3 linked regions of the Homo sapiens genome follow. The protein of the gene in region 1 purifies or fractionates together with the protein of each later gene. This does not show direct contact. Each region holds a gene or a part of one and is shown on either strand. Other genes may lie near its edges.

Region 1 (3,656 bases):
GCCGAGGCAGTTGGATCACTTGAGGTCAGGAGTCCCAGACCAACCTGGCCAACGTGGGGAAGCCATGTTTGCTATGCAGGCAGTCCTTACCTTGCAGGGCTCCAGTATGCACAAATTTCAATTACCACAGTTAAATAACACCCATTCCCCAAAAATATAGTTCCAATTTTAGTTACCATTCTATATTAACCATAATGGCATAAAGCATAAACTCGGGCTGCTGGCTCTTCAGGCCACCAACCATCGTAGAAATAACAGATGCACATCCTATCATGACCAACGGCATCATTTCTTTCAAAGGCTGTTGTGATCGGTCACTGCGCCCTTGTCATTCTTTTTGTGCCCACCTTGCGGAGACATGTGGCTGTGTTGCCTCCTTGTCTCCCAGGGACAAACCCACATGACATTTTACAAAAATGGGTAATTGAAAGAGGGAGTTGGTGAACAAAGGTAAAAGTGCAGTAAAGAAATGCAAAGTGATAGTGTTCAACGTAAAATTTGAATTGAATGCAAGACTGTGGGAAGTTGATAACTGCCCCTGCTGATGTGAACCAGCGGTCCTTAGTGAAGGTGAACTTATGCACATACATCAAGAGGTTGTGACAAAAAGGTTGAAAATGTCCCAGAGAAAGCGACACTGTCAAAAAACAGCATTGAAGGAATACTGGGAGATATTTTACAACATTGAAAGAACAAAAGCTAAAACATTAGCAGTCGATCCAAACTTAGAAAGGAATGTGACAATTCTTCAAAACAGAGAAACTATATTTTCTCTGTATCATAAGTTACATGACTAGAAGGCAAACTATTTAACCTACTCTCGATCGTTTTTTTACAAAGAAATGACACTTTAATTTTTCATGTTTCTAACATTTTAAACTACAGTAGAAGTAAATATTAGTTGTAATTTTGTTATTTTCTTGTACGTGTATAATGACATGAGTTTTCTCATTGATTTTAAAATTACTATTTTTAATTAATAATTGAAAAATTGTATATACCTGTGGAGTACAGTGTGACATTTTGATCTATGTATATGTTATGGAATGAGTAAATCAAGCTAGTTTCCCATCAGTTATTAAGATCTCTTCGCATGGTCTCAGCTTACACAAAGTGAGACCTGCCTATATTTGTAGATTATAAAAGATTTAACTGAGTTCTGAAAGCTTTGACTATTTGTTCTTCCCTGTTACAAGCCAGTGTTTCTCATATATTTCAAACCCATGACTGGTCTATTGGTATCTCACCAGGTTGGGTAGATTATGCCCCCTCTTCAACTCCGGCGCCTGGCAACGCAGATCCTGTGCTCATCATCTTTGGCTGCTTTTGTGGATTTATTTTGATTGGGTTGATTTTATACATCTCCTTGGCCATCAGAAAAAGAGTCCAGGAGACAAAGTTTGGGTAAGTCTCCCAGCTAAAAATGTTTGCCCACTGGTATTGACAAGGTTGTTATACCAAGTGATTATGCCTTTCCTGTTGGGCCAGCTGCTTACATTGCTCCCAGATGGCTGCCCTGCCTTATGCATACCCTGGGCTCAGGCAGCTTCCTGACTTACGCCATGGTCTACAGAAGCAGCTGCCAGCAAAAGCCAGGCCTGAAAAGGGTTCCTTTACAGAGAAGAGTATCAGTAGGCCTTTGCTACTCAAACTGGATTGCTGTTAAGTGAGGACTTTTATTAGAAGCCTTAAAAATAGGCCGAGTGCGGTGGCTCACACCTGTAATCCCAGCACTTTGGGAGGCCAAGGCAGGCGGATCACTTGAGGTCAGGAGTTTGAGACCAGCCTGGCCACCATGGCAAAATGTCATCTCTACAGAAAATACAAAAATTAGCTGGGCATGATGGCACACGCCTGTAATCCCAGCTACTTTAGAGGCTGAGGCACAGGAATTGCTTGAACCCAGGAGGGTTGTTGGCAGGTTGGAGTGGGACAGAATGAGTGAGGGGTGTATGGCTATACTTTGGAGGGGGCTGAGCCTCCCTCTTTCATTGCTCCACCTTCAGAATGCTACTAGAACATCCCACTCGCTCCAAGACTTGCCATAGGCGTGGGAAGGGCTTAAGATTGGCAGCCAGGCTACGCTTTATTTGTGTTCATCCCAGTCTTAGGGGTCAGTTACTTTAGTCTTTATAAGCCTATTCTTACAATTGTTATACCTTAGTATGTGAATTCTAAGAATGACTATTTTAAAGAAGTGGACAAAATCTGATCTAAATCTTGAACATATAATTGACTAAAATACATCCCAGGATCTTGGTGTGACATGTGGGTTCATCATAAAACAAGTACAGAGAACCTCTGCAGAAGCTGCAAGAGTAGCTCATTAATATGTATTAAAGGCCTGCTAGGCACTGGGCACTGCGGTAGCCTGGAATACAGTGGTGAACAAAATCCTGCCCTCATGGGGTTCACAGTTCATGGGGAGTCAGGCAGTAGTCAAGCAGTCACAAAATAGATTAAAAATGGCAACTGTAATACATTCTATATAAAGGGGTAAGAATGTGTCAGAAAAATTTGGCTGCATTAAGAAAGTCAGGGAAGGCCTTTGTGCAGAAGTGGCTGACACCAGAGCTAAGATCTGAAGAAAGAGCAGGTATTCATTAGATGAGAGAGAAGAAGAGCATTACAGCCAGAAGGAGCAGCACATGCCACATTACCAAAAAGTGGGGCTGCTGAGTACAGCAAATATATTAACAAGATTACAATACTATTTCAAATATTTAGAAATAAAACTATTTCCAGGAACCATTAAACTCAGCAGAAGCTTAAAACAAATGAAAGACTTGTAACAGGTTATTGTTATCTATGTCGAAGTCAGTTCCCATGGATCCTTACTACAAGATCTATTCATTTGTTCCTTTTGTAAAACCACTTTCCAGCTCATTTTTAAATGAAAATACTTTTATTTTTACTTATAAAAGTAACATTATATTTTTTTAAAAATCAGATTATATCGAATAGTCAAAAGGAGAAAGTGAGGCCCATTTCAGGCCCATAGATGGTGTTGGTTGCTATTTTGGCATACGTCTTTCCAAGTGCTTTGCTTTGTGTACATCAGTATTTTTTTCAAAATTGTGTTATCTCTTTAAAATAATCTATGTACCTAAGGTAACTTGAGATTAAATCTGTAATCTAGACTTTCAAATTCATAATACTTTCCCACCAATTAGTCTAAAACAGTGACTAAATGGATTATTAAAATAGACTTCATTTTTTATTTTTAAAATTAATTTATTTTTTTGAGACAGGATCTTGCTCTGTCGTCCAGGCTGGAGTGCAGTGGTGCATTCATGGCTCACTGCAGCCTTGTCCTCCAGAACCCAAGTGATCCTCCCATCTCAGCCTCCCGATTAGCTGGGACCACAGTCACATACCACCATGTCTGGCTAATTTTCTTACTTTTTATAGAGATGAGGCATCTCACTTTGTTTCCCTCGCTGGTCTTGAACTCCTGGGCTCAAGTGATCCTCCTGCCTCAGCTTCCCAAAGTGCTGGGATTACAGGCATGAATCCCAGCCTTATTTTTTAGAACAGTTTTAATTTTACAGAAACATTGAGAAGATAGTACAGAGATTTCTCATATGCTCCATACCTAGTTTCCCCTATTATTAACAGCTTACATTATTAGTGTCACACGTGTCCATGTGAAGAGA
Region 2 (3,656 bases), about 98 Mb from region 1:
GTCAAACAACGTCGTTTCTTCTAAAGAGTGAAATAAGGGATCATAGTGGTGCTTTAGATTAAATAATCCAGATGTGGTTGAAAGTCTGATTTGCCTTATCAAGGATGCTCCTCCGAAGTGAATCTTAACGTATCCTTAAACTATTGTTGTTGTTGTTAATTCTGATACTGCCTTCTTGCTGTTTTCAGTGTTAAGATTTTATCTCATTTTTAAAAATGAGATTCTGATGTGAGTGGTTAGGTTTATTTCTACAATCCTTACATGGTAAAATAAAATGTTTATACCCTTGTAACTTTCCCCCACATTGTTCTGAAATTTTAATTACTATGTGAAATTCAAGTCTTAGAATCACAGCAAGTTCTTAAAATTATTGAGGGAGACAATAAAGTGAGTTTTTTGGGTTTTTGTTGTTGTTGTTGTTGTTGTTTGAGATGGAGTTTCGCTCTTGTTGCCCAGGCTGGAGTGCAGTGGCACGATCTCGGCTCACCACAACCTCCATCTCCCAGGTTCAAGGAATTCTCCTGCCTCAGGCTTCCGAATAGCTGGGATTACAGGCGTTCACCACCATGCCCGACTAATTTTGTATTTTTAGTAGAGATGGGGTTTCTCCATGTTGGTCAGACTGGTCTCGAACTCCTAACCTCAGGTTATCCGCCCACCTCGGCCTCCCAAAATGCTAGGATTACAGGCATTAGCCACTGTGCCCGGCCTTCAGTGACTTTTTAAGACACTGATTCAGTGTGTGCAGAAGTTTAAAATTATTTTTCATTTGCCTTTAAGAAGAATAACGTAATGATTGTGTGAGCCTCACTGTTTGCACAGCATCTGTGGACCTTCATATGGGTGGTACTAACCCCACAGCCCCAGCCTTAGTGTATTTTCAATCCATATCTAAACTATTACTTGCCTTAGACCCTTGATCTGCTAAAGAATTAGTAAAAATGTCAACATTTACATCCCTGAATGAGAAAGACTTGTGATACACTATCTCATTTAATCCCCAAAGTACCTTTTGAAATTGGCGTGGCAGTTATTATTATCCTGACTTTATGGAGGTATTTGAAACATAAAGAAGTTATGAGTTGAGCAAGATCAGCTAATAGCGGGTAAGGATGTAGACAGGCTCATTCATTGAGAAACATTTGTGAAGCCCGTATTCTCTGCCAGACACTGTGCTGGACGTGGGTTTATGATGCTAAGTTTGATATTCTTTCTATTCTGCTTAAGGCTCTTGATATACATGAATTTGTTTTGCTTTTCTTTGGCTACTTCATTTTTTTTAAATCCTTTTTTTTAAATAAGAGCAATTAGATGTTTCTTTAGGGAATTTACCTTGCTGCAGCTTGAATACTAAAAATCCAGTAGTTTGAAAGCACCAAACATCTGATTTGTGCTTAATTTAATAAAAAGACTTTATTATAATATTGGTTTAAATAATAGACGATTACTATTAGGTGGAAAATTACTGTGAGCCAGTTTATCATTGGCAGTCTGTTTTAGTATTTAACTAAAAATTTTATTTAAAACATGTATAAGTTACAACGGTATTTTATAAATTTTGTTAATGTGATGTTGTTGTTTAAGAATAGAAAATAAATTGTTTAGTCTTCCAGGTGGAAAAATATGTCCTAAGTGGAAAAGAAATACCTTTCTGTCTTTGATAGCTTATAGTCCAGCAAGCTGGGTGACCCACATTATTTTGATACTTGTTTTCCTTTAATATCTAGCTGACTCCTGAGTTCTCACAACGCTTGACCAATAAGATTCGGGAGCTTCTTCAGCAAATGGAGAGAGGCCTGAAATCAGCAGACCCTCGGGATGGCACCGGTTACACTGGCTGGGCAGGTATGAAGTGCTGACTGTGAGCTGGCATAAGCATTGTGCTTAAGAGCCAGAGCATTTTTCCGAGAGCTGTCTGTCTGAATGGTACACCCTTAAATGCTTCCTGCATCTGCATATGAGTAATTGCTTCTGGGAGAGTGCTGTGCCCTCAACCCAACCAACCATGGTATCTTCTGGGTTTTTAATAGTGCCCTGAATTTAGGGCATGGTAAGCATATTCATGTAATTCATGCCTGACATTTGGATGGCTGCTATACTTGTGAGGAGAAAAATTGATTTTCAATATTACATAGTTAATTTGCAGATGTAATTTCAGTGGGAAGAATTGGGAAGAGTTCCAAAATACAATGCCTGAAGCGGAGGTAATGAGGATTGATCTCAGGAATAAAATATGTCCAGAAGCATGTTTTAAAAAGTTAACCCGTAACAGGAATCCATACAGGAATCCATACAGGGTAAAGTATTACTTCCATGAACTAATCCTCCCATATGGTCATTGCTGTTTGGTTTGCAATTGCTGCATTGCCAATCTCAATCATTGAGAGGCTGGAGGAGGTTTAGGAAGAAACAGTGCATTGATGTCAAAAAAAGGTGAGAAAGAGAAAAATCAAAGAAGAGGCTGGGCGCAGTGGCTCACACCTGTAATCCCAGCACTTTGGGAGGCCGAGGCGGGTGGATCACGAGGTCAAGAGATCAAGACCATCCTGGCCAACACTGTGCAACCCCATCTTTACTAAAACTACAAAAATTAGCTGGGCATGGTGGCTCATACCTGTAGTCCCAGCTACTCAGGAGGCTGAGGCAGGAGAATCACTTGAACCTGGGAGGTGGAGATTGCAGTGAGATGAGATCACTCCACTGCACTCCAGCCTGGTGATGGAGCAAGACTCCATCTCAAAAAAAAAAAAAAAAAAAAAAATCAAAGAAGAAAAGTTGAAGAACTGCAATTAATTTACCAAATGTAGAGAAACAAAAGACAGCTGTGTAATCTGGAAGAAAGCATAGTCTAGAGACTCAGTGTTTCCCATTCGCTTTAAAGAGTGGGCAAGGAGGAATAAGCTTGCAATCCAGGGAATTTTAATTTGATTTTAAGGAGTGGAATTTGTCATAAAAATGGCCTCATAGCAGAGATTGTGATTCAGTAGATCTTGAGCAGAACCCAGGAATTTGCCTTTTATAGCCATCAGTGGTCCTGATGCAGATGGTGATCTACAGACTGCAGTTTGAAAGCTTTCTGAGAGAAATTTATTAATAATAGCAATCTCTTATTAGTCTTCCTCTTTAGTACAGGTTGAGCATCCCAAATCTGAAAATCTGAAATCCAAAATGCTCCAAAATTTGAAGCTTTTTAAGCTCTGATGTGACACTCAAAGGGAATGTTCATCGAGCATTTAGGATTACCGATGTTCAGATTTGGGATACTCAACTGGTAAATATAAGCCAAATATTTCAATATTTGAAATCCAAAACACTTGTCCCAAGGATTTCAGATAACGGGTACTCAACCAATAATGACACATGATTCTATTTTTTTTTAAACAAGGGTAGGGAAGACAGATTAAACCAGTAAAATTAAAATCTCAGGGACTTTTAAAGTCAATGTTTTGTAAAAATAAGACTGGACTAGATAATGTTGGACCATTTTATTGTTTTATCATTTTTATGGATTGTAGAAGCTTAACACAAAGTTAAAATGAGAATGAAATGACAGGATTTTGTTTCAAGAAGGAAGGTATAACAGCTGCCATTTATTATCTACTGTGTTCCAGGTGTGATGTGGTTGATAGATAATGTCATCAGTGAATGTTGAACAT
Region 3 (3,656 bases), on another chromosome or scaffold:
AAACAAAAAGAAATTTGCATCATGCTATAAACGTAATCTTGAATCTTCTCAAGACTGTGAGCATTTCTCCATTTTTTCCTTAATGAAAGTACAAAATCTAATGGTTGAACTGGATTCCATCATATAGATAAGCTGTAATTCCTCTATTATTCGGCAGAGTTGTCTAGTTTATTTAATCCTTGTGTGTAAGTGATTGCATACATCAATTGATTAAAGTACAGCTGGCTGTAAATGGTAATTTTGTGTCCACAAAGTTTATATATTAGCCTTTTGTAGAAATTATGATATTTTTAAATTGTGACAGAGGGCCTGGCTCTTCAAACAAAAATAATACTCATTATACCCCCACTCTCATCCCTGAAAAAAGCCATATAGGTTAGTTTGTAAGAAATATTTTAAGATGTGACTACTCATCAGCAAATTTTTCTGTTGATAAAACTGGATTTGAAATTTTAATTTTGTTTATCTAGAATAGGTACATCTTTTATTTTCATTTACTTAAAACTTCTTGATTTTAATCTTTCAGATTTCTTTTTTTGCTCTTTTAAGAGGACATTTCGCTACTGATTGTGATATTTTGTTTTGCAGAGTAACAGCTATCCACCAATGTCAGATCCATACATGCCTAGTTACTATGCTCCATCCATTGGATTTCCATATTCTCTTGGGGAAGCAGCGTGGTCCACAGCTGGAGACCAGCCTATGCCATATCTGACAACCTATGGACAAATGAGTAATGGAGAACATCACTATATACCAGATGGTGTATTTAGTCAACCTGGGGCATTAGGAAATACCCCTCCATTTCTTGGTCAACATGGATTTAACTTTTTTCCTGGTAATGCTGATTTCTCTACATGGGGGACAAGTGGATCTCAGGGACAATCAACACAAAGTTCTGCTTATAGTAGCAGTTATGGCTATCCACCTAGTTCTCTTGGGAGAGCTATTACTGATGGACAGGCTGGATTTGGCAATGATACTTTGAGTAAGGTGCCTGGCATTAGCAGTATTGAGCAAGGCATGACTGGACTGAAAATTGGTGGTGACCTGACAGCTGCAGTGACAAAAACTGTAGGTACAGCTTTGAGCAGCAGTGGTATGACTAGCATTGCAACCAATAGTGTGCCCCCAGTTAGCAGTGCAGCACCTAAACCAACCTCCTGGGCTGCCATTGCCAGAAAGCCTGCCAAACCTCAACCGAAACTTAAACCCAAGGGCAATGTGGGAATTGGGGGTTCTGCTGTACCACCACCTCCTATAAAACACAACATGAATATTGGAACTTGGGATGAAAAAGGGTCAGTGGTAAAGGCTCCACCAACCCAACCAGTTCTGCCTCCTCAAACTATAATCCAGCAGCCTCAGCCATTAATTCAACCACCACCATTGGTGCAAAGCCAACTGCCTCAACAGCAGCCTCAACCACCACAACCACAGCAGCAACAAGGACCTCAGCCACAGGCCCAGCCTCACCAAGTGCAGCCTCAACAGCAGCAGCTGCAGAATCGCTGGGTAGCTCCTCGTAACAGGGGAGCAGGCTTCAACCAGAACAATGGAGCGGGCAGTGAAAACTTTGGTTTAGGTGTTGTACCTGTCAGTGCTTCACCTTCTAGTGTAGAAGTGCATCCCGTGCTGGAAAAGCTAAAGGCCATAAACAACTATAATCCCAAAGACTTTGATTGGAATCTGAAGAATGGACGTGTGTTTATAATTAAAAGCTACTCTGAGGATGACATACATCGTTCCATTAAATACTCTATCTGGTGTAGTACTGAGCATGGTAATAAGCGTTTGGATGCAGCTTACCGTTCCCTGAATGGGAAAGGCCCACTCTATTTACTCTTCAGTGTGAATGGCAGTGGACATTTTTGTGGAGTGGCTGAAATGAAGTCTGTTGTGGACTATAATGCGTATGCTGGTGTCTGGTCTCAGGATAAGTGGAAGGGCAAATTTGAAGTTAAATGGATCTTTGTCAAAGATGTTCCCAATAACCAATTACGGCATATTCGCTTAGAAAATAATGACAACAAACCGGTTACCAATTCAAGGGACACTCAAGAGGTACCCCTAGAAAAAGCTAAGCAAGTGCTTAAAATAATTGCTACTTTCAAGCATACCACCTCAATCTTTGATGACTTTGCACATTATGAAAAGCGTCAAGAAGAGGAGGAAGCCATGCGTAGGGTAAGAATATAGTAATTTTTTGTTTGGGGTCTTTGTATTGCTGGTGGGGTGCATGGATGGGTATATTCTGAGTTTAAGAACTTTCTGTGAAGGAAACCAACTACTTAAGAAACAACTCTACAAACACCCTTGAAGGTATCTATGTGTGTCCTATATGAACCATTTCTTCTTTCCTTTCCCAGGGTAACTCACGCTGAGTTAGCCTCTTGCTCATTCTTCATACTCCCTAGATGATAAAGGCCATTGGGCCTCAGTGTTTATCATCAAAGCTGAATGAATTTTGGCATTTGTAACTAAACAGACTTCATGAACTAACCAGGGGCTCTAATCATTAATATTATTAATCATACTAACATAGGAGAAAATATATTTAGAGTTTGAAACAACTTTTTTTTTGAGATGACATCTTGCTGTGTTGCCCAGGCTGGAGTGCAGTGGCTATTCACAGGTGCAGTTATGGCGTATAGCCTCAAGTTCCTGGCCCCAAGCAATCCTCCTGCCTTAGACTCCCAAGTAGCTGGGACTACAGACCTGTACCACTGAACCTGGCACTTAAAACAAGTTTTTATTTATTTATATTTTATATATTATTTAATTTTTTTTCAGACAGGGTCTCTCTTGTCCCGGCAGGAGTGTACTGGCGTGAACATGGCTCACTGCAGCCTTGATCTGCTGGGCTCAAGTGATCCTCCTACCTCAGCTTCCCGAGTAGCTGGGACTACGGTCACACACCACCACGCCTGGCTAATTTTTGTATTTATTGTAGATAGAGGGTTTCACCATGTTGCCCGGGCTGGTCTCCTGAGCTCAAAGGATCTGCCCCTACCCCTCTGCCTCCCAAAATGTTGGGATTACAGTCCTGAGTCACTGCACCCAGCTGAAACAACTTTTAAATAAATGTTTTACTCTAATTTTGTGTTTATAAGAAATTACATATATATATATATATATATATATTTTTTTTTTTTTTTTTTTTTTTCTTTTGTGAGATGGAGTCGCTCTCTGTCGCCCAGGCTGGAGTGCAATGGAGTGGTCTTGGCTCACTGCAACGTCCGCCTCCCGGATTCAAGTGATTCTCTTGCCTCAGCCTCCCGAGTAGCTGGGATTACAGGCACACGCCACCATGCCTGCCAAATTTTTGTATTTTTAATAGAGACGAGTTTCACCATGTTGGCCAGGCTGGTCTTGAACTGCTGACCTCGTGATCCGTGCGCCTCGGCCTCCCAAAGTGCTGGGATTACAGGCATGAGCCACTGTGCCTGGCAAAATATGTTTTTAAAACATAAAACTCTTGAAGTATTTTTATAATTTTTATACTTAAAGCACTTGTACAAAATAGAGGCTTTGCAGAATTTGATTCCTAATTCTGTTATATACCCTCTGTAAGATTGAGGGAGACATTCCTGAAATAAAACATGCTGTTTATCCTTGTATTATATTGGCCAGAATATTTTTATTTTTATTTTTTA

What was found.
Region 2: the proteins of MERTK (region 1) and LANCL1 purify together in Homo sapiens (affinity purification with mass spectrometry; one large-scale study listed by BioGRID and IntAct). This does not show direct contact.
Region 3: the proteins of MERTK (region 1) and YTHDF3 purify together in Homo sapiens (affinity purification with mass spectrometry; one large-scale study listed by BioGRID and IntAct). This does not show direct contact.

Annotation. Positions count from the first base shown.
Region 1 is NC_000002.12:111,996,073-111,999,728, forward strand, and holds part of MERTK (tyrosine-protein kinase Mer precursor), read left to right. Parts: intron 1-1,250; coding exon 1,251-1,404; intron 1,405-3,656. UniProt on the Homo sapiens protein: Receptor tyrosine kinase that transduces signals from the extracellular matrix into the cytoplasm by binding to several ligands including LGALS3, TUB, TULP1 or GAS6.
Region 2 is NC_000002.12:210,470,148-210,473,803, reverse strand, and holds part of LANCL1 (glutathione S-transferase LANCL1), read left to right. Parts: intron 1-1,727; coding exon 1,728-1,845; intron 1,846-3,470; exon of another isoform or gene 3,471-3,656. UniProt on the Homo sapiens protein: Functions as a glutathione transferase. Catalyzes conjugation of the glutathione (GSH) to artificial substrates 1-chloro-2,4-dinitrobenzene (CDNB) and p-nitrophenyl acetate.
Region 3 is NC_000008.11:63,185,559-63,189,214, forward strand, and holds part of YTHDF3 (YTH domain-containing family protein 3), read left to right. Parts: intron 1-588; coding exon 589-2,187; intron 2,188-3,656. UniProt on the Homo sapiens protein: Specifically recognizes and binds N6-methyladenosine (m6A)-containing RNAs, and regulates their stability. M6A is a modification present at internal sites of mRNAs and some non-coding RNAs and plays a role in mRNA stability and processing.